3 separate regions of the Homo sapiens genome follow, and regions 1 and 2 are each linked to region 3. Evidence: fine-mapped expression QTL. A gene starts in region 3. Each other region holds a variant in brackets. All regions are shown on one strand. Distances are from middle to middle. Region 1 has its middle 29 kb from the start of MIR3164. Region 2 has its middle 14 kb from the start of MRGPRF-AS1. Region 3 holds the start of TPCN2 (two pore segment channel 2).

Region 1 (8,566 bases), 63 kb after region 3:
TTTGGATTGGGCTGAATGATGACCCCCTTAACGTATGTCCAAATCCTAACCTAGAACCTGTGGGTGTGACCTTTTTGGAAAGAAGGGTCTTTGCAGGTGAAATTAAGGTAAGGGATGAGATCATCCTGGATTATCTGTGTGGGCTCAAAATCCAATGCCAGGTGTCTCATGAGAGAAGAGGTGAAGACACGGAGAGGAGGAGGAGGATGCACGAAGACAGAGGCAGAGACTGGAGTGATGTGGCCACAGTCAAGGAACACCTGGAGCCCCCAGGAGCTGGAAGTGTCAGGAAGGACCCTCCTCTAGCACTTTCAGAGGGAGGGCGGCCTTGCTGACACCTGGGTCTTGGGCTTCGGGTCCCCAGAACTGAGAAAATAAGTCTGTGTTGTTCTGAGCCACCCAGTTTGGGATGGTTTGTTACAGCAGCTGCAGGAGACTTGTACACATTTGTTCTGCCGACACGCTTTTCTCATTCTCACACGCCTTTCAGGTCTCAGACCCACTCCCTGGGGGAGGAGCTCCTTGGTGCCCATCCAAGCACCTGCCCCTGCCCCTTTGGGAGCCCCACCACAGTCTATGATCATGCATTTATTGATCACTTATTAACTTATTTATTGGCTAATTACACATTTGTTGACTATTGAAAATGCGAACTATGTCTGGTTTACCTTTGAATCCCAGCATCTGTGAAGAGCCGGCTCCTGCTATTATTATTGTTAATCAGTATTAGTATTAGCATTAAATGAATGAACAGGTACCTCCTCATTCATTCATTTATCCATTCAATTACCATTTATTGAATGCTGCTGGGTGCCAGGGGCTGGGGATATGGCTGTGAACAAGACAGACCCAAGTGCCTGCCTTGGTGGGCTCTTCTAGTCAGAGTGGCCAGGAGAAGCAGACCAAGTGTCTGGTGCATCAGGCAGTGGTGAGCTCCAGTGGAGATTTAGCCTGGGCCAGGGCAGGCCTGGCTGATGAAGGAACACACATCCAAGGAAAGGGAGGCAGGGATCCCAGTGGAGACCTCAGGACAGAGCAGCACATGCCAAGGCCCTGAGGTGGGGCATGCTGAGCTCCTCGAGGTTCCCTGAAGGGGCCTTGTGTGGAGCAGAGGAGCTCCTGGCGGTTTGAGTGGAGGAAGGATGAGATCCAATGTACTCTGTTAAGGCTCGCCCTGAGTCCTGATGGCTGGGATGTCCATGGCCTTTGAGCTGTGCAGTGGAGAAGTGAGAAGTGAGGATCTGCAGGGGTGGCTCCAGGCATTTTTGAGTCTGCAAGGGAGACAACTGATCACTTTAATCAGGCACTGCAAACTCTTTAGATCAAGAGCTGGGAGATGTGGCCATTTTCTTGCTCACTCTGAGGTGGGAGATAGCTGAGGTGTTGACCAAGATCAAGACAGGGCAGCACCACCGTTTGCCATGCTCTGCCTTTAGGCATCTCCCACCTGGCTGCCTTGAAGAACACTTGCTCCCTTCAGAGTTGCAAATCAATCAATTGATAAATCAATCAATACATCAATCCTCATGTTACTTTGTTAATCATCTCCTGTATCAGTCACAGCACTGGCATCTGGCACACATTATCAAATTTAATCCTTCCTACTTTCCCTTATGAGGCCCTTTATACAGATGAGGAAACCGAGGCTCAGAGAGGAAAGTCTGTGGCTTCAGGGTCATCAGCTAGGAAGTGGCCAACTCTGGCACAGACCTCAGGCCTGTGTGAGGCTGAGTTCAGTGTGTCCTGGCATGGAAGAGAGAGAAGTTGGCAGATGCAGTGCCCTAGCATCTACTTGGAGGAAGAGGTTGGGATCCTTGGGAGAGAGGGCTTCTGGAAGTGCAAGTGTTCTAGGAGAGAACTGTGTGAGCAGTGCACAGTGCTGGAAAACATGGGGCCAAGAGGTTGGCCTGGTGGGGTTCTCTGTCTCTGAGGCTACGACTGGGGGACACAGCCAGTGGGGTCCCTGACTGAGACCTTTGTAGAGTTCTAGGGAGAGAAAGGCAGGAAATACAAATTATTCTACCAAGACAGTTGTCTTTCTGGGGTATGACCAGTTTTCTCCACCCACCATCCATCCATCCATCCATCCATCCATCCATCCATCTAAATATCCATCCATTCATCCATCCATCCATCCATCCATCTGTCCATCTAAACATCCATCCATCCATCCATCCGTCCGTCTGCCCGTCCGTCCATCCATCCATCCAAACATCCATCCATCCATCCATCCAAACATCCATCCATTCATCCATCCATCCATCCAAACATCCATCTATTCATCCAAACATCCATCCATCCATCTAAACATCCATCTATTCATCCATCCATTCATTCATCCAAACATCGATCCATCCATCCATTCATCCATCCAAACATCCACCCGTCCATCCAAACATTCATCCAAACATCCATCCATCCATCCATCCATCCATCCATCCATCCATCCATCTAAACATTTATCCATCCATCCAAACATCCATCCATCCAACCATTCAAACACCCATCCATCCAACCATCCAAACACCCATCTATTCATCCATCCATTCATCCATCCATCCATCCAAACATCTGTCCATCCATCCATCCATCCATCCATCCATCCGTCTGTCCATCCATCCATCCATCCATCCATCCATCCATCCATCCATCCATCCATACATCCATCCATCCATCCATCCATCCATCCATCCATCCATCCATCCATCCATCCATCCATCCAAACATTCCCCAAATATCTATCCAAACTCCCTACTTCCCTCTTTGTAGTCTATGACAAACATTCTTGTTGGTACTGGGGATACAGGATGGATCCTAGTTCCTGCTCTCAGGAGGCTGGGAAGCTCTGAAGAAATGATTATGCAAATCTACTAGAATTGTGAGGACCACCAGGAAGGAAGGTACAGCACTCACTAAGAGTGTATAACCAGGCCCCCCTCACCTGGTGCTCAGAGTGGGCTTCTCTGGCAAGTGAGCTGAGATGAATTGGATGAGCCAGAGTGACCTGGTCGGGAGCAGAGAAGCGCAGTCCCAGTGGGAGGAACAGAATGTGCAAAGCGTCTGAAGAAGGAAGGGCTTGTTGAAGTGGGAAGACTGGTGTCTGTAGGGGTGGGTGGGGAAAATGAAGAGGCTGTGGAGGAGGCGGGGGGCTCAGGCACTGGGTCGGGGGGCCATACTCTGATGATGCTGACAGACTCAGGGTCAGGTGATCACTCTGGGGTGTGAACTCAATGTGGCCCCCTTCCAATTCTGTTTTGCAGTCTCTGCTTTCTCAGAAGGTTACTCCAAAAGGGGACCACAAGGTCAAGATGGGCATGGGGAGGCTTTGGATGCCGAAGCAGTTTTATTTTGGCAAGTCAGCCGAAGGAGCACGTGCGCCTAAAATTAGGCAAGAGTGTGAGCTGCACACAAGTTCACACGCTCAAAACTCCTGTGGGCAGGGCCTGCGCAGCTCTCCTCTGTCTGTTAATGGTACAGTCTGTTCAGACCTTTGGAACATTCCTCAGCTTTTATTTAATGTAGGAAGAATCATTTCTGGAATTAGCATATAAATTGGCAGAAGTCAGCAGCTCTAGCAGAAGTCACTCTCTGTGTCAGGACAGGAGAGCGAAGGCCTGTGCATGGATGGGAGGTCCACTCCCACTCCCCTGGCGCCCTCCTTTCCCCTTCAAGGGGCATTTACATGGTTCATTTAAAACACTCCAGCCTTCTTCCCAAAATGTGCAACTTGGGAAAGAATCTGTGTCCCTTCAGCTCTGGCTGCAAGGGGAGAGGGGTCGTGGCCAGGGACGGGGTGCTGAGGAGAGCATGGGAAGCCTTTCTGACCAAATGGCTTGCTTCGGGAAAATTTTCCCACAGGAGTGGCCCCATGGCCTGCCTCCCAGCACAAGGTTATTGAAAGGGAACACAGAGAAATGTTCACTGCCCTAAGCTGTCTTGTCTGGTCTGGTCGGGGGCAGATATTTTACACATTTTATAGCCCTATTAGTTTTAGGTCTTTTGGATAGGGGTGACCAGTTGATCATTAACTGTTTGCTACGTGTGGCATTCCGAATTCTGGCCCCAGATAGCTCAGCCCAGCGTGCTGATTCCGCCTGGCCATTGGGCCATGGCTGGGTGGGCCGCCGCCTTCCCCAGCGGGTGGGGCGAATTCTCCTGATGCCAGGGCTGGGGCCCATGTGGAGGCCTCCCTGGCTCCCTCAGGCTCTGGTGTGAACACTTCATTATCCTTTCTGGGAGTTCAATCCCCTTGTGAACCCTTCACCATGGTGTCTTCACAAGACTGTGGGCGTCTGCCCTAAAAAGGCACCA[A/G]TGATTTGATTCTGACATTCCTACTTTGGTGTGTTTCCCCCAGAATAAAATAGCAATCAGGCTGAGCGCGGTGGCTCATGCCTGTAATCCCAGCACTTTGGAAGGCTGAGTTGGGCGGATCACGAGGTCCGGAGATCGAGACCATCCTGGCTAATATGGTGAAACCCTATCTCTACTAAAAATACAAAAAATTAGCCAGGTGTTATGGGCGCCTATAGTCCCAGCTACTCAGGAGGCTGAGGCAGAAGAATCGCTTGAACTCGGGAGGCGGAGGTTGCAGTGAGCCGAGATCGCGGCACTGCACTCCAGCCTGGGCAACAGAGCGAGACTCCTCCCCACCCCCCCAGCAAAAACAGCAATAAAACAGGGGCTCTCTCTACGTCCTGGACAACCATGGGGTCTGGGTGTCCTCTTCTCCACCTTTCGGCCTCCAGGCCTGGCCAGGACACTGTCCTGTCCTCGTTGTAAGACTTGCATTTTTGACGTTCTCTACCTACAAAAGGTTCGTGCCAAAGTGCAGCTTTTGGTCGGGTTGGGAATCCTCAGGCGGCTTCTTGGACAGGAGGGTTGGGCAGGTCGATGGGGTGGGAGTTGGGGAGCAGCCACACTCATGAATAGATTCTCGTTTTGCACTAATCAGATTTTCTAGCAGAGCTTCCAGAAATGTCGTTCTCTTGCAGAATCAAAGGCAATTGCAAGGCATTAAAAACCAATGTGCCTTCAGTGTGTGGGCTCCCGGTCTCACCCCCAGCTGGTTCATGTTGCCGCCCAGTCCCGTCTCAGACCTCCTTAGGCCGCCTGTTCTCCCTCCCCGCCCTCAGCTCAGTGCCATCTCCCCTCCCGGCAACTCCCTGTTCTAACTCCTCTCATTCTGGGACACGTGGCCTCTGGTGGGCACTTCCAAATGGTCAGTGTTGTCACTCACCCTGGGCTTAGAACTGTCTATGGCTCTTCAGGATTCAATCTAAGAGAAAAGCCCCAACCCCTGGTTTGAGCCTAGAATGCCCAGCGAAGCCCGGCCCCTCCTTTCCCCACACCTTCACTCAGGGCAGCCTCGAGAACGTCCTGCAGCTGCCTGGACATGGCACCGCTGTCTCTCTCTGTGCGTGTCCACTGCTGTTCCCTCTGCTGTCTCTCTCTGTGCGTGTCCACTGCTGTTCCCTCTGCTGTCCCCTCGTCCCCACCTGGCCAACCTGCCCCACCCCGACGCCCCTCTTCAGGAGGCCTCCCCTGTCCCTGTCTCTGGGCTCTAGTGCTGCATTCATCACGTTATTCCCTTTCCATGAGTCTCATTTCCTCCTGGGTCTCCTTCCACCTCCATGCATTCTGGGGCCAGAGGCAGCTCTGAGCACTGTGGCCGAGGGATAGACGGACCAGTATGTGGGGAGGTGGGTGAGGGGTGTGCAGTTTTATAGCTCAGCCCAGAACATAGGCGGTGGAGCCAGATGGACCTGGGCTCGAGCCCAGCCCTCGCAGCTGTGTGATCTGAACAAGTTACCTAACCTTTCTGAGCCCGGTTTTTTCATGTTAGCAAACAGGCTGTGCGACAGCCCTTCTGGAAGGTCAGGGAGGCTGTGGCCCAGCTCTCGCTCGGAAGTGCTCAGTGATGGGTTTGGAATATTGTGGGGACCGAGGGGTAGGGATGTTTTCCCTGACTGCGTGAGGATGACCCTGGTGTGTGGAGCAAAAAGGCAAGCTGGCCCCCGGGCGTAGGGGCTGGGGGTGCCACAGGGAGGTGCTTTTATGCTCATGCCTTCCAGAATGGGAGAGCCCCAGGCCTCACCCAGGAAAGAGAAGGACCTGTGCCAGGTGCCGGCTTCATGTCCAGCTCTGCCACCCTCTTTCGTAGGGATCCAGGGCCCCATTGTTCACATGGGGGTGGCCTCTAGGCTCCTGATGATCTCTTGGGAGCTGCCCTTGGTGATGCCGAGCTGCCTACAGGGGTCCTTCTGGGGCCTGAGGCCAGGTGGTCACTGGGCCCCTGCCCCTCGGCCCCTTTGTGAACCCAGCAAAACCTGCACCTTTGGCGCATGACCTCCAGCTCCTTGGGAACCTATGGCTGCTCTTCCAGAAGTCCCTCTACCTGGCAATGGGCCCTCCACCGAGAACTCCTGGTGCTGAGATGGACGGATCATGATTTCCTTCTGTCTGCACCAGGCTTTGCTTAGGAGAGAAAATGCCAGAAACAAAAAGGCTTTTCTCACTCTCAGCCTTAACATAGGATTTATTATGAATAAATGAAACTCCCTTGCAGGGCAGTTGCTCTGCGACCAGCGTGGCCTAGGAAGGCTCAGCTCCAAGTGATCAGCTCTGTCCTACAGAGACTGAAGCTTGGAGCAGCTGGTGACAGGACCACGGGCACGTAGCCTGGATTGGGAGAAGTTGGGAGTGGCGATCACTAGTGTTTGCGGAGCACTTGCTAGGAGGCCTGAGCCAAGGATGTTATCTTATTGATGTACGTTATCTTATTTAATCAGAGCCTGCCAAACATCCCAGTCTGCCCCAAAGTCCCGGGCGACACCTGTCGCCCTGGCGTCATCATTAATAACCCCCGGAAGGTGAAAACTCTCAGAGTGCCCTTGTGGAGCTGAGAAGGAGCACGGTTTCACTGTGCTTAGTCCTCTGTCGAGCCCTCTGGAATATCCCTATGATGTGGATGAACAAGCTGTGGGTCAGGGGGATGGAGGGACTTGCCCAGGGTCACCAGCTCGGAGGCAGGGTTGGATTCCAGGATTTATAATCTCAGAGGTGGGATTTAAAGCCACGACCCTCTAATCCTTCCCAAGCAACAGAAGGCACGGAGTGTGTTCGCGGTGTCAGGGAGGGTGGTGGGAAGGCAGGGGCGGAGGTCCCTTCGGAGGCCTGACCTTCCCAGGACCCCTCACCAGCGGTCAGCAGCCGGGGTCCCGGGAAGAATTCTGCCGAGAGAGAGCTTTTTCCCCTTCAAGGAATAAAAAGCACACACACACATTCCTCCGAATCAAAGGTGTGTCCAGAGAGAGGGAGGGCAAGGCCCCTTGACCAGCAGCTGCCAGCAGCCTGGGCACATGACAGCCCCTGAAGGCTGCTGGCACCGACTCTGGCCAGGCATTTGCAGTGGACGGCGGTGCCAGGACAGGGAGGGCGGCCTTTCACCAGCTTGGCACCTCTGCCATGTGACGGCCGCCTCCCCTGGGGGAGGGCGGGGCCGCTCCTCTCCCAGCAGGCGGGTGCAGCCCCAGGGGTGCTGCAGGCCACTGCGGGACCTTCAGCGTCCGGCTCCCGGCACTGGCCTCTGTGCCCTGGCCGTTCCTGGGGTGGGGCATGGGTCAGGAACTCGCACTCTCACTCTCGGGAGATAGGAACTCAGTCCCATTCATAACCCCACCGTGTAACCTGGAAGGCACTTTGCAGTTTACAAAGGCCGTCATAGCCAGGGTCCTTGAAGGAGGCGTGTCACCGTCCACTCTCCAGAGAGCAGCCTGCGGCCTGGGAGGTGGGCTTCGCCTCCTCGACGTCACATGTTGGGGGCTGTTTCCTCGTTGACTTCCAGTGCAGGGCTGTGATCTGGAGTCCAGGCCTTGCTGGCCGGGACCCCCAGGACAAGGGTGGCCGTGACATATGTTCTGGCGCCTTCAGTACTAGTGAAAGAAACGAGCCGGCCGTGTCAGCTGGGAGATTTCTTGCGGCTGCCGTAACAAAAGATCACAAACTGGTGGGGGCTGGAAACCACAGAAATGCCTTCTCTCCCAGTGCTGGGGCCGAAGCCCGATATCTAGATGTAGGCAGGGCTGCGCTCCCTCCGACTGCTCCAGGGAGGGACCCCGGCCTCTGTCTGCCCTGGTGCCTCCAGGTGCCCTGTGGCTTGTGGCTGCCCCGCTCCAGTCTCCGCCTTGTTTTCATGTGGCCCCCATCTCTTCTCCCTGTGTCTCTCCTCTGAGCCTTCAGGAGGAGGCTGGTCATTGGATTTTGGGTTCTCCAGGATGATCTCACCTCAAGGTCCTTAATTGCATCTGCAGATGCCTGTTTCCAAATAGGGCCACATTTGGTTAGGACGTGGACACGTCTTTCGAAGCCACCATGCAGGCCGCTACAGGAGGTTTCATGAATTCATCTCAATTTCCAGAGGACCTGGTGTTGCTTGGCCGGCCCCCTCCAGCAGTGACTGGAGGTTGCTGAGTAGCAGAAGCTTTAGGTGGGGCAGGCCCTCACCTGTCTGCCACAGCGAACCCCACCCCTGACCCCCGACCCTGCCTGGGACCCCTGACCTGGTCTT
Region 2 (8,566 bases), 51 kb before region 3:
GGCTGAGTGCCTGATGGACTGATGGACTGATGGACAGTGGGACCCCAGACTGCTCAACCCTCCTCAGGGTCCCACGGTTCCCCTGAGTGGCTCTGGGGCTCTGTTAGAGGTTCTGAGCTTGAAGCTTGCTCCTGATCCCCATCAGAGCCAAGAGAAGCCCCGATTTATGCCAACTCCTGCCCCCAGCACTAATCGATGCTGAACGAGGCCTCGAGGAGGTACCGCAGCGGGGGGAGGTGATCATCACTCAGGCCGGGGACGGCCGCACGGCGTCAAGGGGTGTTTACAGTGTTCTAGTGTGCTCAGCGCTGCTTTGCTTGGCCACTGAACACATCAGAGACCGTGGAGACCCCTGGGAGGAGAGGCGTTAATAGCAGTGACCGCCCCGGGTCAGGACCCATGGAGGTGAACGTGCACAGCCCTGAGACGGAGCACCTCCTAAAATTTGGGGGTCTTGTTCTTATTACCAAGGTTATTTGTGTTTACTGTAGAGCACATTGGAGACGCTGGATAGATACTCAAAATACCGAAAAAGAAAAATTGCTCATAATCTCACCACCAGAGATAATTCCTTTGGGAATGGATCCTTCCAAGCGTTTCCTGTGTGTAAGCTTTCACACTGTGGGGTATGTTCGTGTTATGCTTTGATTCCCTAGTTGTTGGGTTTAAAATATTTCAGATTTTTTTTTTTTTTTTTTTTTTTTTTGTGATGGAGTCTCTCTCTCTTGCCCAGGCTGGAGTGCAGTGGCTTGATCTTGGCTCACTACAAGCTCTGCCTCCTGGGTTCACGCCATTCTCCTGCCTCAGATTCCCAAGTAGCTGGGACTACAGGCGCCTGCCACCACATCTGGCTAATTTTTTTGTATTTTTAGTAGAGACAGGGTTTCACCGTGTTAGCCAGGATGGTCTCGATCTCCTGACCTCGTGATCTGCCCGCCTCCACCTCCCAAAGTGCTGGGGTTACAGGTGTGAGCCACCGCGCCCAGACAATATTTCAGATTTTTAAAGTATTTTCTTTTTTCCTTTTTGAGATGGAGTCTTGCCCTGTTGCCCAGGCCAGAGTGCAGTGGCGTGATCTTGGCTCACTGCCACCTCTGCCTCCTGGGTTCAAGTGATCCTCATGCCTCAGCCTCCCGAGTAGCTGGGATTACAGGCGTCTGCCACCACCTGGCTAATTTTTATATTTTTAGTAGAGACGGAGTTTCACCATGTTGGCCAGGCTGGTCTCAAACTCCTGACCTCAGGTGATCCGCCCACCTCGGCTTCCCAAAGTGCTGGGATTACAGGCGTGAGCCACCACGCCTGGCCTTTAAAAGTATTTTCTATTTCCACTGCCTTATGGCCAATAATGGAGCCTGATTTTTAGAATGTGTTGAGGAGTGTGAGTGTGTGTGTGTGTGTGTGTGTGTGTGTGTGTGTGTGTGTGTTGGGGAAGGCACTAGGTTGGAAACTGTCCTCTCATATTCAATGTCAAGTAAGTTTTCCAATAGAGAATCTCTCATGTTAACTTTTAGGATTCCTGTCCTCAAAAGCCTTGCTTGACCTTTTGTCCATGCCACTGAAGACACAAAAATGTGTTCTTTCCCACGGCTAGTATGACGTTGTCCCTTTCTCCCTGTGCCTTAAACATCTTTAAAAACGACACAGATAAGATGCAAAGATTCTTATTTTGAAAGCTTCCAATGCTAAAGAAGAAAGAAGGTCTACCCTTGTCTTCACCCCCAGGTATCACTATAAATCCTTGAAGATTTTTTTTTCTGTGCATTTACCTATCAATATATGTTTTTTACATAAATGAAAATATAGGGCCTGGTTGTCTCGTAAGCTTGCTTTCTCAAAAACAAACTATGTCTTCTTGAATTTAGCTTGTCCGACGCTTCTCCGTGCTGTGCTGCACACTGAGGTGGCAGGTCCCAGGGTTGGTGACATGAGCTCATCCGCGCTTTGAATGTTTTTGAGGTGGGTTTCATTATTTCTGCTTTATTTGGGCTCAGAGAAGCTGAGACACTTGCTGGGCTACCTGGCTACCCTGGCCGAACAGGAACTCCCCCAACGTCCCACGGGGTGCAAAGCATCGCTTCTGTCCCCCACGCTCTCCTGCCTTCACCCAGATTGCAAAAAACAGGCCTCTCACCTGTCTTGGATGCAGTGTGTGGTCCCTCGGTGAAGGTGGCTGGTGCCTGCCCACTCCAGTGCTGGAGGCCTCAGCAGCCACCTAGGCCCAGGCCCCTGAGCCGCTCGCCCTGTTCTGGCTCTGGCCTGAGCTGCCTGCTTCTCTCCCGCTGGGCAGGGCTGCCCCCAGGCTCAGAGGAGCCTGTCCCCAGGATCCCCTGATGATCTTCGCTAGGTTCCCTCTGAGCAGTGGGAAGCCGGGCCTGAGGTATAAATGCAGGATGGGTGCCGGCCCCGCCTGCCAGGGCCTCTGCACGTGGGTACCGCGGTGCTGGCCCAGAAGAGCCAGCTGAAGTCTAATGGACCTGAGCATGAACCCCCGGCCCCCACAGGAGACAGCTTGGCGGCAGTGAAATGGAGGATGAGGCTGGGGCCTTCAAGGAAAGGTGATACCTCCCTTCCTGAATGCCACCAGGGATGGCCGAGGAGACCTCACAGCATTAGTGAGACCCACCGTGGGGGGTTCAGGTGAAGCCATGGAGGAAATGGGGGTTCTTGTGGGCTGGGAAAGGCTATTACAGCCACCCCCAACTGCCTGCCTGGGGAGATGCTCTGGCTAATGGACTCACTAAGGATGCTGCCTACGGAGGGATGGGGAGGAAGAAGAGCTGGGCCCGGAGCCCAGGATCTTATTTCCAGTCTGAGTTCCACTGCTTGTGAGTTGGGGAACCACACCATTCAGGTGACGTCTCTGAGCCTCAAAGTCCTCACCAAAATGCCTGTAGTCCCTCAGGGCCTCCCTCAATTCCTAGAAAGAAGGGGAGCTCACACACATGCCACACAGGCAGATGGTAGAGCAGCCCTTTCCCCCACACCGGCCGAGGCCCCCTTCCTGCCTGGCGAGGGAAGAGTTCTGATGTGTCAGTCCCCTCAAGGGCAGGATGGAGGCCGGCATCTTATCCGTGTCACCTGCCCTGTGAGGGTGCTGGCCTGGAGCAGGTGCCGGGTGGGCCGTATGGGTGGTGCAGCGGATGGCTGAGTCTCTAGGACGGTCCCCGAGCTAGCATGGTGTTCATTCTCACTGTCCCGCCCTGCAGCGGAAGGAGGTATAGGCATGGGAGATGCTGGGCATCTGCTTTGAACAAATGTGCATGAGGAAAGAAAAAGCGGGGACCCCAGACGTTAAGGCTGATCACAGAAGTAACCCTAGGCAACTGACTTGGGGGACAGTCTTAGGGGTGTGGGCGGTGCTGACTCTGCAGTGACAGTGAGGACTTCCCTGGCCTCTTTATTCTGGGTTTGCTGTGCTGGACCTATGGTGCCTGTCTCTTCTCCAGGAGGGGAGATCCTGCCTGAGAATGGGCCAAGACCCAAGAGACAGAGACAGGCTGCTCAGAAAGACATAAGCTTCCAGAAGGTGGCAGTTCTCACATTTTTTGTGCCTTCTGTGCCTAGAACATTGCCTGGCATGTAGAGATGCTCACATTTCTTGACTAATTGCTAGTTGATTGACAGAGTCCCCAGATCCAGGCACCTGGATCCAGCTGTTCTTGAAGCCCATCTTTGCCTGGACTTTTTAGTAATAGGAGCCAGTGCATTCTGTGTGTGTGTGTGTGTGTGTGTGTGTGTGTGTTTCAATGGGGTTTTTGTCATTTGCAACAAAGATTCCTGACCAGTGGAGAAACTAATACCTGAAAGAGGCAAAGAGGCTTGTTGCAAATACCTGCCTTTACATATGCAATTGGCTGGGTCCTGGTGGGATGACACCGTGAGGTTGGTAAAGCCCCACTTTCTGTGTTGGGCCACACGTGTCAGGAGGCAGCTCAGCTCTGCTTCCCCAGGCCTTTAAAGAACATGTGACATCAGGAGTGGTCCCTGCAGATGTCTTATCTGAAGCCTCCCTCCGGGAAGAATCTGCTTTCAAGTTCATGTGGTTGTTGACCGGGCTCGTTTCTTTGCCGGCTGCCAGGCTGGGAGCCTCTGTTTATTGCTGGCTGTTGGCCAAAAGCTG[C/A]CTTCAATGGCTTGCCACAGGGGCCTCTCTAATATGTCAGCTCACAACACGGCAGCTGGCTTCATTGAAGCCAGCAAGGGAGAGAGTCTGCTAGCAAGATGCAAGTCACAGTGCTGTGCAGCCTAATCAGCTTTGCTGTGTTCCATCGGTTAGAAGCAAGCCACTTGGTACAGCCCATGTGCACAGGGAGGGGATGACACGAGGGTGAGACGGCATTGCTGGGGGCTGTCTTGGATTCTGGCCGCCACATCGGTGGGCTGACCAAGACCCCCGTTGCGCTGCTGGTTTCCTGCCTAGCACAGAATATGCCACAGACCAACAACCACCACGTGTTTTTGTTCTTTCCTTTTCCTTTCCAAGTGGGAATTCTAAAAAAAAATTATTGTTATTTCCTTTTTCCTTTCCATTGCGTGTTGTGTGTCTGGAGAGTGACCATCATTTGGCCAAAGGGCACTGTTGTGGCCTGAACGGGGTCTCCCCAAAATTTGTATGTTGAACCCTCAAACCCCCTGTACCTTAGAATGTAACCATATTTGGAGAAAGGGTCTTTAAAGGGTTAATGAAGTTAAGATGAGGTCACTAGGATGGTCCCTGAATCCAGTGTGATTGGAGTCCTGATAAGAGGAGGTGAGGACACAGACAGGCACAGAGGGACCACCCTGTGAGGACACAGGGAGAAGGTGGCCGTCTGCAAGCCAAGGAGAGAGGCCTCAGGAGGAACCAGCCCTGCCACACCTTGATTTTGGATTTCTGGACTCTAGGACTGAGAGAAAGAAAATTTCTATTGTTTAAGTGCTCCCACCAGTCTGTGGTATTGGTGAATGGGTGATAGCATCCCCAGAAAGTACTACAAGTACCTTTCAAAGAGGAGGTGTTTGTGGCTCTGACGGAGGGTGGCGTGAGTAACACCCAGGGTGTGGGCTCGGAGCTGGGGAGGCAGGCCCTGCGGTTGACTTTGGTCATCTCTCTTCTGTGGGGAAGGCAGGCATTTTATGTTGTAAATTATACAGCTACAGATTTTGGCTGGGAGCATTTAAAAATCATACTTAGGAAAGAAGTGGGCACGTAGAGGGTGGACTGAGGGGAGGAACGTGGCCAACACCTGCTGTTTGCCTGCCAGTTTGTTTGTTTGTTTGTTTATTTATTTATCGAGACAGAGTCTCACTCTGTCGCCCAGGCTGGTGTGCAGTGGTGTGATCTCAGCTCACTGCAACCTCTGTCTCTCAGGTTCAAGTGATTCTCCTGCCTCAGCCTCCCGAGTAGCGGGGATTACAGGCACCTGCCACCACGCCTGGCTAATTTTTGTATTTTTAGCAGAGACGGGGTTTTGCCATATTGGCCAGTCTGGTCTCGAACTCCTGACCTTAAGTGATCCACCCACCTTGGCCTCCCAGAATACTGGGATTACAGACATGAGCCACTGCACCCGGCCATGCTTGCCAGTTTTACCTTGGGCGCACCTCTTCCCTGTTTTCAGTCCACTGGGCTAAGGTGGGGTGACTGTCACCCCCTGTCCCCCATCCCTGCCTCCAGCTCCTGGGAGGGTGTGTGCCCCTGGCCTGGCCAGTGCACTTGATATCAGGACTTAAGCTAGAATCTCCAGGAAGGGCGTGCTCTTTCTGCTGGGATTGCAGAATTTGTAGAAGATAAACCGAGAACTGCCGCTTACCTGCCATTTAGTTTTTCCATTGAGAATAAATAGAACACAGACCAAAACAGGGATGAAAACAGGGAAAAGAGAAGTGGCCTAGCGAACATCATCTGCGGCCCTGGATCCAGCTGTGTCTGAAGCCAGAATCACTTCTGGAACTTTCTGGGTATGTGAGTTAGTAAACTCCCTTAAATACACACATACCTCCCATGTACCCCAGATGCCAAAGCTAGATTAACCCGGGGTTTCTGTTACTTGCCACCAAGCACCCTGTCTGATATGGTGTAAAAGTCTGCCTGGGACACTAATCTACAGTGGCATAAAAGCAGAGATGGATGGTCCACCCAGGTCGGGGCAGGGCTGTGCCCAAGGCTGGACCTACTGCCCAGTGGTGCCAGGGAACTTTGGGGGGATGATGGAAGCGATTCTTCCGCAGGGATAGAAACATTCTGATGACATGGGCACATAAACATTTGTCCAAGATAATTAAACTGGATATTAAATGGGTCAGTTTTATTTTATGTAAATTAGGTCTCAATTCAATTTATTAAAAAGATGTTTAAAAAAATCTGCCTGAGCGGGGGAGCCTCCTCTTGCATGCCAGGAAACTTGGCGCTGGCACTCTGACTCACCCGCGCAGAGTTTTCCATGAGTTTTGATTTTGTGAACTGTGCCCTGTTGTTTTCAAGTTCTCCAGCTGTCAAGCCCCTACTGGCTTAAAAGGGAATGTTTTGCACTTGTACTCTCAGTGGTTTTAGTTTGGGAGGATCTCTGCAATGTGTTTGCCCAGCTTTTTGGCCTTGTCACCAGCCCGTCGAAGGGCACATTTCCCAGGCCTGGTCATCTCCCTGTATGCCGAGGGGCCGGACCACATGTGGACCCTCATTTCCCTGCCCTACCTTCTAGATGAGGCCCTGGTTCTTGGGGAGGAAGGATGGTCCTAGCTGAGGATTCCAAGCCAAGCTGTGCAGATGTGAAAAGATCCTGGGGGCTTAAAAATCCTGGCATAAAATATAAAATTCAAGTTATCTGAAAATGACAACTGGCAGGGGATCCGGGAAAGCTGGGTGGATGCCAGAAAGGCATTCCGTTTTCCTTTTGTGAAGACAGGAGACAGAGACGGGAGAGGCGTCGGCGTTCAGGCCGTTTGCTGAGTGTCCGCTGAGCACCTTGTTCCCAGTCCCCGCTTTGATTCAGACGCCCACAGCCTGAAACTGAGCTGTTTCCTCCATTGGTCTCCACAGAGTGTGGATAGGTCTCGATGGCCCGTCTGGGTTATCCTAGGGCTGTGATGGGCATGTCCAGGCCACTCCGTGCATCTGCCCGGAACCCCAGTGTCCAGTGCTTTGCAGATGGGAGATGGAAGGTCAGAGACCTGAGCCTCCAGGGCAACAGGAGGGCCACTGTGGGGAGTCCCTGGATGGTGATGTAGGCCTCCAGCCAGGGCCGTCCACCAGCGCGACTGACCTTGGATGAGAAACTCCATTCATGAGCCCCCACTTCCACAGCTGGGGCTGACAGTATGGGCCATGTAGCCCTGCATGGACAGTCAACAGAAAACCTACGTGCAGCTCTTGGCCAGCACCCACTGCCCATAGTATGTCCGCAAACAGCAGATTGGTGCTGGGGACAAACCACTCACAGGCACATCCCTTCTGCAGTGGCCATTCTGCTCCCTGCCCTGAACGCCCGACCAGGGCAATCAGGCACACCGGCTGCCACCCCAGGCCACTGCACCAACTCCTGGAGGTCGGTGCTGTAGCTGACTTATCCAAGGAAAGTGAGGCACAGCAAGACTGAGGTCCCATGGCTTATAGGTGGCAGCCCTCTGCCTCCCTGAGGCTTGCTCTTGACTTTCCAAATTTGGCCTTGCTTATCCCTTGCATAATCTAAAAGAGCAGCTTATTTTTATAGAAATAGTGGGTGGCAGACAGCACGGAAAAGTGGAGAGTTCTGCCCTGCCTGATGCCCCACCCCTGCCCCTTCACCCCACCCTTCCCACATACCACATGGTTGTTACTAAGTCGGCTTTGTAACAACCAGGGCAGCCCAGATGCTCTGGTCCCATGCCCCACTCTCCATTCTGTGACCTGCTGTGGATCCTTTTCCCAGAGCTGTGGGATGGAAATCTCCCCCGCAGCCCTCAGCTCCTCCCAAGCCCACTTTAATAATTAAATACCAAAGGAAGGAGGAGGAAAGTGGAGGAGAGCGGGCAGTTCCCGCTCATCTCATCATCTGTGCAGTCTCCCTCCATTAGCACAGAGAGCGAGGTGGTCCAGGGAGGTGTGGGAATCCTGGGGCTTTGCGGGGGGATGGAGGGGAAGAAAGCTTGTTCCCTAGCAAGACTGCAAACACCTGCACCTGAGAAGGGCCACGGGTTGGGGGAGGCCTAGTTCCTGGGGTTCACCTCTGCCCCTCCCGCCTTAGGATCCATCAGGGCAGATGCCTCCTCCTAGAGTCGGACCCAGCCTATTCCTGACCTCCAGGCCCTGCTACTGCGTGAGGCTGTCCACCCCCTCACCGGCCCTGGCTCTGAGCTGTTGCAGCAGCATCCAGGCAGGGAGGCCCCTTCCTTCTAGGTCAGCAGCTCCCCACGAGGACTCAGGGCTGGAGTCCTGGGGTGGGGACTCCTAAGGAAGAGATGAATTCCCAGGAACTGGGATGCTCTGGGCCCTGAGGAGGAGCCAGGACCCCAGATGGACCCCCCACCCAGCTGCCTTCAGGAGAGGGACGTGCTTCTGCCCACTTGTGTAGCTAGGATGCCCGTGCTGGTGGGAGCTTTCGCCACTGGA
Region 3 (6,469 bases):
AGGCGCCTGCCACCATGCCTGGCTAATTTTTGTATTTTTAGTAGAGACGGCGTTTCACCATGTTGGTCAAGCTGGTCTCGAACTCCTGACCTCAGGTGATCCGCCTGCCTTGGTCTCCCAAAGTGCTGGGATTACAGGCATGAGCCACTGTACCTGGCCTGAAAGCAGAGTCTTGACGAATTATTTGTACACTCATGTTCACAGCAGCATTATTCACAATAGTCAAAAGGTGGAAGCAACCCAGTGCCCATCCATGGATGACTGGATAAGCAAAATGTCATGGATACATACAGTGGAGTATTATTCAGCTTTAAAAAGGAAGGAAATTTGGACACATGCTACATGGATGAACCTTGAGGATTTTAGGCTAAATGACATAAGCCAGTCACAAAAGAACAAATACTGCAGGATTCCACTTAAATGAGGAACCTAGAGTCGCCAAAATCTTAGGGATAGAAAGGAGAATGGTGGTTTCCAGGGGCTGAGGGAATGAGGAGTCAGTGCTTAATGGGTCCAGAATTTCAGTTTTGCAAGATAAAAAGAGTTCTGGAGTTGGAGGTGATAGTTGTATAGCATCATTAATATATTTAATATCAATGAGCTGTACACTTCAATATAGTTATGTGAACTAAAAATATCTGAGACAGGTCTCGATCTATTTAGTAAGTTTATTTTGCCAAGGTTAAGGAGTGCCTGGGAGGCAGGTCTATGCCTTCCTTCAAGGATGATTTGTAGGACTTCAATATTTAAAGGGGAAACTGGCCAGGTGCTGTGGCGGAGGTTGCTGAGTGACCTGAGATCGCACCACTGCACTCTAGCCTGGGCAACGAAGCAAGACTCTGTCTCAAAAAAAAAAAAAAAAAAAAAAAAGGGAAAGGGTGGATATTGGGAAAGAGGGAGAAATTTTAAAAATATGTGGAGAGATAAGAGACAAAGGTTGCATTCTTGTGAGTCTTTGATCAGACTTTCACTGAAATACACAATTTACAGGTTGCGGGGGTAGAGGAATAGTCACTTATGCCTTAGTCTGGCTCGGTGAATCTGCACTTTTATACCAGAGGAAGCAATCAGGTGAGCAGAGGGATGACTTAGAGTTCCATCCTTTGTTTGGAACCTGTGAAGATCAGTTGTCAATGTACATTGTTAGGGTAAAATTCAACAAAACTGTTTTAGGGTAAAGATCTTGGGTGCCCACGAAAAATTTCCTAGCGGGCAAATTGTGAGGGAGGTATGTAGCTTTTTAAATCTTCGTAGCTATTTTATTAAAGAAGAAAAGGCGAGGCAGTTTGCCCAACGCAGTTCCCAGCTTGACTTTTCCCTTTGGCTTAGTGATTTTGGAGTCCTGAGATTTATTTTCCTTTCACAGTTATGATGGTAAATTTTATATTTATTTTAAACCCTCCCCCCTCCCCAAAAGAGGGGGAAAAAGTAAAGAGGTATGGCAGAAGGGGAAGTCACAGAGATTGGAAGCGTCTTGCAGCACCTTTTTTTTTGAGATGGAGTCTCGCTCTGTTGCCAGGCTGGAGTGCAGTGGCGCAATCTCAGCTCACTGCAATTTCCGCCTCCCGGGTTCAAGCGATTCCCCTGCCTCAGCCTCCGAGTAGCTGGGACTATAGACACGTGCCACCACGTCTGGCTAACTTTTTGTATTTCAGTAGAGACGGGGCTTCACCATGTTGGCCAGGATGGTCTCGATCTCCTGACCTCGTGATCCACCTGCCTCGGTCTCCCAAAGGGCTGGGATTACAGGCGTCTTGCTGCATCTCGAAGCGTCTTCAGCGTGCTCTTGCTTGCTGGCTCTGATGATGGAGGTGTTCAAGCCATCGTGGAAGGAATGCAGTGGCCTCTAGGAGTGAGAATGACACCAGCCAACATCCAGCAAGAAGACGTGGACTTCAGTCCTAGGCCCATGGAGACAATTCTGTTAACATCCTGGATGAGCCTGGAAGTGGGCTTTCCCCAGAGTCTGCAGATAAGAGCCCACGGCAGCTGACATTTTGACTCTAGCCTCGTGAGGCCCTGAGACAGGAGGTTTCCTGCCCCGCAGGACTGAAAGATGATGAATGGGAGTTATTTTATATTTTCAGATTGTGGTAATTAGTCACTGTAGCAATAGAAAACGAATACAAGGTCTTTATGCATTAATGTTGAAAACACTTTTTATATACGTTGTAAATATTTTTTAAGTGTGTCATATGTTTTTAAACTTTTCCCTTAATGATATTGAATCCTCCTAATTTCACCATCAGAGGGTAAACTCCAGTTCCATTCTGGGGGGAGTCCTTTGCAGTCACCCCGTGTACTCAATACTCACATGCATCAGAATCACCCCGAATGCTTGTTAAAACACAGATTCCTGGGTCCTCCCCGCAGAGTTGCTGATTTAGTAGGTTTAAGGGCCCAAGAATTTGCATTTCTAAAATGTTTCCAGGTGATGCTGAAGCTTCTGGCCGGAAAGACATCCTTTGAGAACATATTTCCTCCCCAGCCCTCGGCCCTTAAGCCCCAGAACGCTGCCCCGCCCTGGGTGGAACGAAGCTGAGCTCCACCCTAGAGGGGCGGGGCCCTTTAGCTCCGCCCCACTCAGGAGAACCCCACCCCTCCCTCCCCGTTCTCATTGGCTGGGACTGCAGGGATCCCCTGCGCCACAGTGCCGTGCGCGCGTCAGCAAAAACGCCAGGGACGGGGTCTCCGCGCCTGCGCAGTGAAGCTGGGCGCCTTCGGGGCTTGAGCTTCTGAGGGTCGGGTCCAGCGCGTGGGCTGCTGGATGGCGGAACCCCAGGCGGAGTCGGAGCCCCTGCTGGGCGGGGCCCGCGGCGGTGGCGGCGACTGGCCGGCGGGGCTGACCACTTACCGCAGCATCCAAGTCGGCCCTGGTGAGCCGCCCGGACCTGGGGAGGGGACTGGCCCGGGAGACCAGGGTCGCGCGTGGGGGTCCCGCTGTCCCAGCACCCCGCTTTCTGCCGGGCGCGCCCCCACCAGGTTCGAGTCCGAGCGGGGCCCGGGCCGCGCCGGGTGCCAGGCGAGCCGGTGTTCTGAGGGCGAGTGGGCTGCGTCCTGCGGACCCGGACCGGGGTCAGGGCAGAGCTGGGGTCTCTTCCGTGTCGCGTCCTGATCCCGACCAGCTGGGCGAAGAGGCCCTCGCCCAGCCTTGGGCAGCCCCGAGGGAACCGGCCACCTGCGGCAGGCACCCTCCGTGTGCCCGGGCGGGCCCAGACCCCATACTTCCCGACTGTCGCCGTAATGAGGGTCGCCTAATTGACTCAGAGAAGGCAGCACTTTGATTTTTCCCGTTTCTTCTGGAAAAAGCAGAGGCTCACAGAGAGGCGTTACCCTACCCAAGGTCACACACCCAGTAAGTGGCCGAGGTGGGATTCGAACCAGTTGGGAGCTAGGAGTCCTTTCTTTGTAGGGTGCCTTTCCCCGTCCCACTTCCCGTGGGGCTGGGGCGGGCCCCCTAGACGGGGGCGGCTTCCTCTCCTTGCCCTCTGCCACCCCAGAGTCCCCTCTGCACTCCCTCCTGCCCTTCCCGTTTTTTGTCCTGGTCTGAAGATTGCTGAATCCGCCCCCCGAGGGTGGGGTGCGTCCGCCCCTCGCTGACACCAGGGGAATGAGATTCTGGATTAAGAGGTGGAAGGACCTTAGCTTCACTTCACAGATGAGGAAACTGAGGCCCAGAGAGGCCCTGAGACCTGCCCAAGGTCACAGCCCTCTGTTCTGGTGCGGCTGCTGCTCGAACCACTCTGAGAATTCACACCTGGCTCCTTCCCTCTCTGGCCTCTCTTTCCTTCTTTCCTCCTCTGTCTGGAAGGAACTGGGTTGGAATCCTGGTGCCCACCCACTGGTCTGTGGCATGTGCCCATCCATGGAGTAATGAGGGGCCAAGGAGGGGACCCTGACGAGAGATGAAAAACCAGAGGCCAAGGTGGCCACCCTGTCTGCTCACCTCAGAAGCTGCCTCCAGGAAGTTCTTCAGGTGCTTCCTGGGACCAGTCAGGAAGGAGATCTGCAGGGAGCAGCTCTGGCAGGCCCCTTGATGAGACGCCCAGCATATGGCACCGTTCAGGGAACACAGACTTTGTGTCTAGGGGTCTGGGCGCCTTTCTGGGGCTGCACTGGCTGTGTGACCTTGGCAGGTTGCTTAACCTTTCTGTTTCTTTTTTGAGATGGAGTATCACTCTGTCACCCAGGCTGGAGTGCAGTGGCGTGATCTCGGCTCACTGCAGCCTCTACCTCTGCTGGGTTGAAGCGATTCTCCCGCCTCAGCCTCCCAAGTAGCTGGGACTGCAGGCGCCCGCCACCACACTTGGCTAATTTTTGTATTTTTAGTAGAGATGGGGTTTCACTGTGTTGGCCAGGGTGGTCTCAAACTCCTGACCTCGGGTGATCTGCCTGCCTCGGCCTCCCAAAGTGGTGGGATTACAGGCGTGAGCCACTGTGCCTGGCCATGCTTCACCTTTCCGAATCTCAGTAAAAGGGAGATAATACTAAGGACTGCCTGGCGGGCATTGTGAGGATTCAGAGAGAATCCAGAGTTTGTCCTCAGCACAGGGCCCGGCGGGCTGGTGTGGGGGCCAGTGGCCGTCCTGGGTAAGCTCTGTGATCATTGCAGGTCCTCCCTGGCAGGTGAGACCCGCTCTGCTGGGCAGTGTGGCTGACAAGAGGAGGCTCTCGGGGAGCGCTCTTTGTCCCTATGCTGTGGCCTCAGCCAGGGCTTCTGAGAACGTGGACAGGACGCTCTGTGTTCTGAATCCCCTTGGCCAGGGTCCCCAGCAAGGACTGGCAGACTATGGAGCCATGGAGACTCCGAAAGGCTCATTCAGTCTCTGTGCTGAGGCCTGTGCCAGGCTTTGAAATGAAGGCCCTGTGCTCTGGTTTGCAAGTCCTGTGGTTGGTCTCTTGCCAACGGGTTGTGGTGAGGGCTGCTGCTGTGGGTGCCCCAAGGACCCCAGTGGACCCTGCTGTTGGGTCGTTTTGACTTGGCCCCACCTGATGGGGCCGGGGTCAAAGGTTGAGAACAGTTGTTTTCTCTTGTTGCTGGGTCAGAAAAATCACACTTTTACTGGTTATCAAACAAGTCAGAGGACAAGGGATTGCGATGCTGTAGAGGCTTTCAGAGTAACTGAATGCTTATGAAGGGCTCACTTAGCAAAGTACTCTGGCTATAGTAAGTCATTCAGTCTGTACTTAGCTCCTATTGGGTGGGGGTCCATGAGGACCTGGAGCACCTAGAGGTTAAGGGACTTGCCCAGGGTCACAGAGGATGATGGTCAGGACCCTACACAGGTTGTGCAGCCTGGAGCCTGGAGCAACAGGGGAGCGGGAGCTCAGACCTGGATGTTGCGGGGCAGAGGCTTGGATTAGGAAGCCGTGTCGAGGCCTGGTGTGCCGGATGCAGCATCTCAGCCCCTGCTGTCCTCTGTGCCTTGCAGAACCCTTCAGCCCCAGTGGGTGATGGTGTGTGGAAAGGTGATTGTCCCCCAGGGTGATGAGCTCAGGGCGGGGCGAGCTGTCCCAAGGGAGTCCCTGGACTCACAAATTGGGGGATGGTGCTCCTGGCAGAAGCAGCAGCCTGAGTAAAGGGTTGGAGGCTTTGGAGAGCATGGCCTTGGCAGAGCCCAGTTCGGAATGAGTGGCACTGAGGGTTGAAAGGCAGGAGAGAGGCGGGCCGGCAAATGTGGGAACCTGCAGTGCCAGACCAGGGTGGAGTGTGGGCCTGGAATAGTGGGGGCCCAGGGGAAGCTGCGATGTGCTTCTGAGTGTTTGGAACGAGATCCTTGGGCTGTTGCAGGGTGAAACGGAGGATGGCCAGACCCAGAATTTTACAAACCAGCAACCAAAAAGCCAGGCGAAAGGGAACCACGAGTGCTGGATGGTTCCAGGGGTGCCCACCACTGTTGGCCTGGGATGGCTGGCCTGGGTGGATGTGAGTACTTTCCGTGGTCCTGGGGCTGGAGTGAGGCCCGGAACTCGGCCGCTTGTCTCTTGTCTAAGAAGCTTGTATCACTAGATCTCTCCTGGTAGAGATTTTGTCTTCTCCCAGGGAATCTGGTAAGGTGGGGCCTCTCAGATCACCGGCCCCCCAGGCTCCCCTCAGGGCTGTTCATTTATTCATGGGATATATCAGCTTTGAGTCCTGTGTGCTTGACTTCTGGGCTCTGCAGATACAGCAGGGAACAAAACAGTGTGGCTTCTGTTCATAGCGATCCCAGGATGTGCTCAGGGGACATAAACAGTAGCCACTTTCAGAGCTTCCCTGGGGAGACATTCGGGTGTCCTCAGGGTGGGTCTCGTGGCTGTGCATGTGGGCACCAAAGCCACAGGGAGGGAAGGCTCTTGCTCCCGGCAGTGCAGCAGGGCCGGGCAGAGTGAGGGTGGGGTCCGGTCTCCTGCCTCTGTCTGGGGCCCCTCACACCTCTAATCCGTCCAGGGCCCAGCTGCCTATACCTCATGCCCCCAAGCAGGAGCC

Evidence for each region. PIP is the estimated chance that this variant, and not a neighbour inherited with it, causes the effect.
Region 1: its variant is the best candidate, but not a certain one, in a credible set for the expression of TPCN2 in prefrontal cortex (BrainSeq, PIP 0.64).
Region 2: its variant is the best candidate, but not a certain one, in a credible set for the expression of TPCN2 in whole blood (TOPMed, PIP 0.90).

Annotation. Positions count from the first base shown.
Region 1 is chr11:69,108,338-69,116,903 of GRCh38, forward strand. No RefSeq gene overlaps it. Among named protein-coding and RNA genes, the nearest start is that of MIR3164, 29 kb to the left of the region's middle. The variant A/G (reference allele first, on the strand shown) is at 4,312.
Region 2 is chr11:68,994,505-69,003,070 of GRCh38, forward strand. No RefSeq gene overlaps it. Among named protein-coding and RNA genes, the nearest start is that of MRGPRF-AS1, 14 kb to the right of the region's middle. RefSeq lists a silencer at 162-328 and an enhancer at 7,906-8,406. The variant C/A (reference allele first, on the strand shown) is at 4,124.
Region 3 is chr11:69,046,231-69,052,699 of GRCh38, forward strand. TPCN2 (two pore segment channel 2) reads left to right here and starts at 2,702. Exons shown (of 25, transcript NM_139075.4): 1 at 2,702-2,876. The coding sequence starts at 2,768. RefSeq lists silencers at 2,440-2,659, 2,780-2,949, 3,030-3,129 and an enhancer at 5,106-5,680.